Homo sapiens: one gene and its partner. The protein of the gene in region 2 purifies or fractionates together with the protein of the main gene of each other region. This does not show direct contact. Each region holds a gene or a part of one and is shown on either strand. Other genes may lie near its edges.

Region 1 (2,493 bases), on a different chromosome or scaffold from region 2:
TGATTGGCAGGAATGAACTTATGCCCACGCGGGCCAACCTCCCCTGCCGGCCATGTCATGTCTTGGCCCTTGGCACAGGAAGGGGTTTGTGGAGATCTTTTCTGGGGAGTTACTGGATTGCAGAGAAGGAACACTGCTGCCCAGGAAACCAAACCTCAGCCTTTCAAGCCGGCTTCATTCTACTCATACCCTGTGCACCTCCAGCCAGGCCCAGAGCCATGGACCAGGGCACCTGCGAGGGGCTGGGATCCTTGCTGCCCACGCGAGGCCTGTTAGCTCGGCCTCCCTACGGGCTTCAAGAAGACAACTCCGTCCTCTCCCAACTGTTTGACGAGGACTGGCGTGGGGGGCACCCACTAGGGCCCATTCTCTCCAGTGTGCCCACCACCTGGCTGTGGGGGGTGTTCATGACCTCTCACGGCCCCTTCTGTGTTTGGTCGTGCAAACCTGACACAGCCATCCCGACCAAATGGAAAACTGCAAATTCGAGGACGACCACGGCATTTTTCCAAAACAGTTTAATTAAAAAAAGGTAAAGAAATCTGAAAAAACTGGGGGGGTGGGGGAAGGAACGGGCAAACCCAAAAAAGCATATAGTGTGAGTCTACTGGCTCAGTCACAAAGAAACACCACCATCAAAAAGATATTTAAGTTTAATACAAATTTTATACAAAGAAAATGTGAAAAAATACTTCCATATGCTAAAAGCAATTATGCTTCACAAATAAGGCCAGCTAGGCTATTTTTTTTTTTTGACAACTGCAATTCACAAATGTTCTTTCTCTCCTGTTTTCTTCTAATACTCTCTTATTTCTTCTCTAATATGGGTAACTAGCTGGAAACTGTACAGTTCGCATCCTCTTAACAATGAAGAGAAAGTAAACAAGACTAAAATGTACAACAAAACGTACTGGAATGATATCGTACAATTAATTTTCTCATATACATACATCACCTTTTGCTTTTTCATCAATGCTTTTTGTTTTACACAACATACAAAATGGCTCTACAGCATACGTAGTGTACGGACAGCATGACGGGCCTTGCTTTCTCTCATACTGCCTGTGTTTCATGCTTACATAAAAACGTGAAATTCCATCATATAAATAATACGTACATGCTTCATCCCAGACTCAAACGTCCTCTGCGTGCACCTTGCCTTTGAGTCCTTGCTTCCAAGAAGCACAGCATCTCTGACCAAGTGTGTGTGAGTGTGTTTAAAGGAACCACAAAGCAAAGATAAGGTTTCTCTTTTTTTCAGAGTTCATGATCCTAAGACTTTCTGTGTTCTCTCCTGTGACTGAGCTGAGTGGGGCTTGTTTGTTTCTCTTCTGTAAACAAGGATATTGTTTTTTCCCTTTTAGGAGTAGAGTCATCATTTCAATCACATGAAAGAAACTAGCTTCTCCCTGTGTCCGTCTGGTCCGGAGAGCTTGCGTTTTAGGAACGTGGTAACGTAGTAGCTGAAAGGAGCCAACGGCTTGATGGGATAGTCTGTGCCGAAACTCCCGATCCCAACATGCTGCGTACAGACACACGAGCGAAAACGGTTCGCCCTCCCCTGGGTATCCAAGGATGAGGACGTGAGTATGAAAGTGGTCCCCGGGCCCAGTATCCATTCCGTCGTGTGACAGACAGGCTAACTGACCATCCCTTCTCCAATACCAAAACATTCTTTTTTGTTGTTGGGGTTGGTTGCTTTTTTTTTTTTTTTTAAATCGTTTTTCTTTTTCTTTTTTTTTTTTTAATAAGTTAAAGTTAATACAAATATAAAAAGGGGAAAGTCCTCTAGATTCAATGACATCCACAAATTGTACATTATTTACACCAAAAGCACAGGGCTCGTGTGGGTGAACAGTCTGCAGTCAAAGCCGATGCTGGGTGTCCTGTAGTGTAGCAGCCCCCGCGCCGGGGGCTCAGGCTCAACTGAGGGTTTTGTCATTTTCAAGTCTGAAAGTGGCTGTTCTCCTGCCTTTGTTGTTTCTTCTTTTCCTGGCGTCTGGGTTTTTCTCCCAATGGGGTGGGTGGTTTGTGTCCCGATTCACTGCTAGTCCCAGAAGGTGTCCAGCCGAGACTCTTTCGGGAGGAGGCTCTTCGTGCTGGTACTGGTGTTGTGATCGGAACGTGTCGATCCCCTCTTCTCATCACTGCTGCTCCAACTGGATTTATTACTCCGGGAATGGTCTGAGGGGGAAAACCAATGTGTTTAGCGTGCCTGCCCACCTGCGCCTGAGCACAACTATCCTGCAATCTGACCTGCCCCTCCTGCACAGGAAACCACCTTCCCCTCCCAATTGATGGTTCAAACACTGCCACCGCTGACTGCCCTGCATCTGTGGGTCTGTAGAACAGAAAGGTAGAACAACTTATTTTTTAGGATTTAACGACAACCGGTTGAAAAAACGGTAGGGTGTCATGCTCACAGAGAATAAAGATTTGTAGAAAAGGTGCTGAACTGCCAAGGAAGGCATTTCTTGTGCCGTGTCTGGAACC
Region 2 (3,500 bases):
AGGGACCCTGAGCCAGCGCCGAGGGTACCCAGCTGGCACCGAGCGTGCCGTGCAGCCTCACCCAGCCGTAGACCTCCTCGCCCTCACCCGGCCGTAGACCTCCTCGCCCTCACCCAGCTGTAGACCTCCTCGCCCTCCTTGCTCTGCCGCATGCGCCTCACGTAGCGTGAGAAGATGGACAACAGAGCGCTCAGCACGGCGTCCGACGCGGCACTCGGGGAGAGCTTCGAGAAGAGGTGGGACATGATGGTGGAGCGCTCCACGACCAGCCGGGCCACGTCCTGGTGTGTGGACAGGGGGGCGTCAGAGGCTCCGAGACAGCTCTGCTCTCCGGCCAGCTGGGGTGACCTCGTCGCAGGCACGCTCTCACTGGGATCTTAAGCAGGGCCCGCGGCACCGCAGACCCTCACTCAGCCGCAGGCCGCCAGGGAAGACGACCAGAGCTGGGTCGGACTCTCCAGGGGGGAGGGAGGACACGACTCTCACAGCCAGGGACAATGACCAGGCCCTGAAAGCGGACGCTGCTGCCCTCTGCCCGGCAGCCACCATCTGTTCACCTATCGCTCATTCCCTGAGGACTCGGGCCACCAACTTTCACTAGGTCACAGCGCAGGTTGTGGACAAGAGAACCGTGATGCAAAGTGAGAAGCAGCCCAGCAGAGAAGGACAGCACCCAGGAGAGAAGATGGGAGTCAGCGCCACACATGTGAGCTAGAGATGCTGAGGACAGCGGGCAGGTGCCCAGCGACCTGGGCCCACAGCCCAAACCCTCCTGGCGTCGGGGAGAAGGCTGATGGCTCAGATTCCACCCTGCTGTGAACAAGGCACCCTCACCCCCGTGGCTTCGCATCCTCAGGGTCTGGGGAGAAAGGCTCCAGGGAGTGAGTGGTGACTAAGGAAGGGACACAGGTGGCCACGGGGTCATAGAAGCCCCAGCACAGCAGCCGTGACGGCCCTCCCACCCTCAATGCCTCCCTGTGGCCCAAGAAGCCGCCAGCCCAGGGCACTGCACCACTGGCCCCTTACCCTCCCCAGGGCAGGGTCTCTGTGCTGACCCCGTCCCCTCCCCAGGGCCACACTGCCGGCTGGCCCCGTCCCCTCCCCAGGGCCACACTGCCGGCTGGCCCCGTCCCCTCCCCAGGGCCACACTGCCGGCTGGCCCCGTCCCCTCCCCAGGGCCACACTGCTGGCTGACCCTGCTGCCTCACCAGGGCCAGGTCGCTGTGCTGGGCCTGCTCCTCCACAGGCGTGTGCTGGGACAAGTAGATCAGGTAGGCGCTGATGGTCTGGGGATCAGTCTCCATGTGGATTGCCTGGAGGGGAGGGTGGTCTGAGCGGCAACAGGGCAGGGCTGCGGCCCTCTCATCTTTCCCTGCCGCGGCCCCGGTCAGCGCCCTCACCTGCTGCAGGGCCAGGGCTGTGGTGCTCCTGACGCTGTCGAACAGAGGCAGGCGAGGCAGGTCCCGCAGCAGCCACTGATAGCCCTGCAGCACATCTGTGTCCCCCACATCCTCCTCCATGGGGGGCTCCTTCTCCTCCCCGTCCCGCAGGCTGCCCTCCGAAAGCACCAGCGACAAACCCTGTGGCAGACACTCATGAGCTGGGCCGGCTTTCGGCAGTGCAGGCAGGGTCTCACCCTGGCCCCGGGAGCACACGCATGGTGCCCTCAGAGCCCCGAGGAGAATGTGGCGCTTGCTTCCCACGGGAGAGGCCGCAGGTAAAAGGGAAAAACGAGACTGAGCTCTTTCTGTTAAATGCTTCTGTTCAAGTTCCTGAAGCCACTCTGGACCCTCCCGTCACCAGCAAGAAAGGAACACCAGGCAGGCGGCAGGGTCCACCTTCACGTTTCACTAGCGCATCCTTCCTACGCAGGGAAGGAACTTAAAATACAGTCAGAGTGCACTGAACACTCATTTGATTTTTACTTTTCCTTTTTAAGACAGGGTCTCATTCTGTTGCCTAGGCTGGAGTGCAGTGGTGTGATCACAGCTCACTACAGCCTCAAGTGATTCTCCCATCTCAGCCTCCCAAGTGGCTTGGACCACAGGTGCATGCTGCCACACCCAGCTCATTTTTCTCATCTTTTATTTTTTGTAGAGATGGGTATCATTATGTTGCCCAGGCTGGTCTCAAACTCCTGGGCTCAAGTGATCCTCCTGCCTCAGCTTCCCAAGTAGCTGGGAACACAGGCACACACTACCACACCTGGCTAATTTTTTCAGTTTTTGTAGAGAGAGGATCTTCCTGTGTTGCCCAGGCTGGTCTCAAACTCCTGGACTCAAGTGATGCTCCCACCTCGGCCTCCCAAAGTGCTGGGATGACAAGAGCAAGCCACTGCCCCAGGCCTACTCATTTTACTTCTTTATTTTTCATTTATTTATTTTTTTTTTTTTGAGATGGAGTTTCACTTGTTGCCCAGGCTGGAGTACAGTGGCACAATCTTGGCTCACCTCAACCTCCGCCTCCTAGGTACAAGCGAGTCTCCTGCCTCAGCCTCCAGAGTACCTGGGATTACAGGCCCCCTCCACCACGCCCAGCTAATTTTTTCTATTTTTAATAGAGACGGGATTTCACCATGTTGGCCAGGCTGGTCTCCAACTCCTGACCTCAGGTAATCTGCCTGCCTTGGCCTCCCAAAGTGCTGGGATGACAGGCGTGAGCCACCGTGCCCGGTCCCCAGCCTACTCATTTTAAACATGAAGAGCGTGCGCAGAAAGACCCGCCCACCACCTCACCTTCATGGCCAGCACGCGGGAGGCCACCTGGGAGGAGCCGAGGCGCCGCAAGAAGTAGTCCAGCACCTCACACGTGGTCTGCTCATCAGCCTTCGGGCCCAGTAGCAGGTCCTGCAGGCGGCCCAGCAGCTGCCGCTGCTTCTGTTGCCTCTGCAGGGAGGAAGGGGCTCTCAGGGGTGCAGGTGACAGGCCAGGCGGGTAGGACGTGGGGTGCGCGGCTGGTGGGCTCAGGCATGGGTTGCCCTGACAGGGGTGCGGGGTGAGAGGCGGGGGGGCTGAGGGGTGGGCGGCCCTGACCTGCCGCTTCTTGGCCTTCTGCTCCTTGCTCTCGCCCTCGTCGTCCTCCTCCCCGGAAGCAGCATCGTCCACAGCATCGTGCAGCAGGAACTCGCACAGACACTGCACGGGCAGCACGTCCAGGGAGCCCTCGCTGGACTGTACCAGGTCCGCCAGCCAGGGCATGGACTGCGAGGAGGCCTGGGCAGGCGACAGTGGCGCCCGCTCAGCACCTTCCAGGCCCAACACCTGCCGCCAGCCCCCCGGGTGACCGCGGAGCCGGAAAGGGCGACACGCAGCAGCCAGCTCATGGGCCCCGCATCCAGGTGTGTCCTGCCCTCTTCTGGCCACCAAGGCCTCCGGAAGGTTCCGGGCCTCCCAAGACCACCATCTCTACCTCCTGGAGCCTCGGCACTCACCTGCCGCTGGATGATGTGGAGGAGAAAGTCAGGGTTTCGGCTGCGGCACAAGAGGTGCCCGAGGCGGAGG

What was found. Proteins that work in one complex are often made in the same cells at the same time.
Region 1: the proteins of INTS1 (region 2) and ZMYND8 purify together in Homo sapiens (affinity purification with mass spectrometry, with the first as the bait; one study listed by BioGRID). This does not show direct contact.

The regions. Positions count from the first base shown.
Region 1 is NC_000020.11:47,208,714-47,211,206, forward strand, and holds the end of ZMYND8 (MYND-type zinc finger-containing chromatin reader ZMYND8), read right to left. Parts: intron 2,185-2,493; coding exon 2,048-2,184; 3' UTR 501-2,047; downstream 1-500. UniProt on the Homo sapiens protein: Chromatin reader that recognizes dual histone modifications such as histone H3.1 dimethylated at 'Lys-36' and histone H4 acetylated at 'Lys-16' (H3.1K36me2-H4K16ac) and histone H3 methylated at 'Lys-4' and histone H4 acetylated at 'Lys-14' (H3K4me1-H3K14ac).
Region 2 is NC_000007.14:1,483,890-1,487,389, forward strand, and holds part of INTS1 (integrator complex subunit 1), read right to left. Parts: coding exon 3,431-3,500; intron 3,213-3,430; coding exon 3,033-3,212; intron 2,886-3,032; coding exon 2,736-2,885; intron 1,581-2,735; coding exon 1,401-1,580; intron 1,314-1,400; coding exon 1,209-1,313; intron 282-1,208; coding exon 114-281; intron 1-113. UniProt on the Homo sapiens protein: Component of the integrator complex, a multiprotein complex that terminates RNA polymerase II (Pol II) transcription in the promoter-proximal region of genes.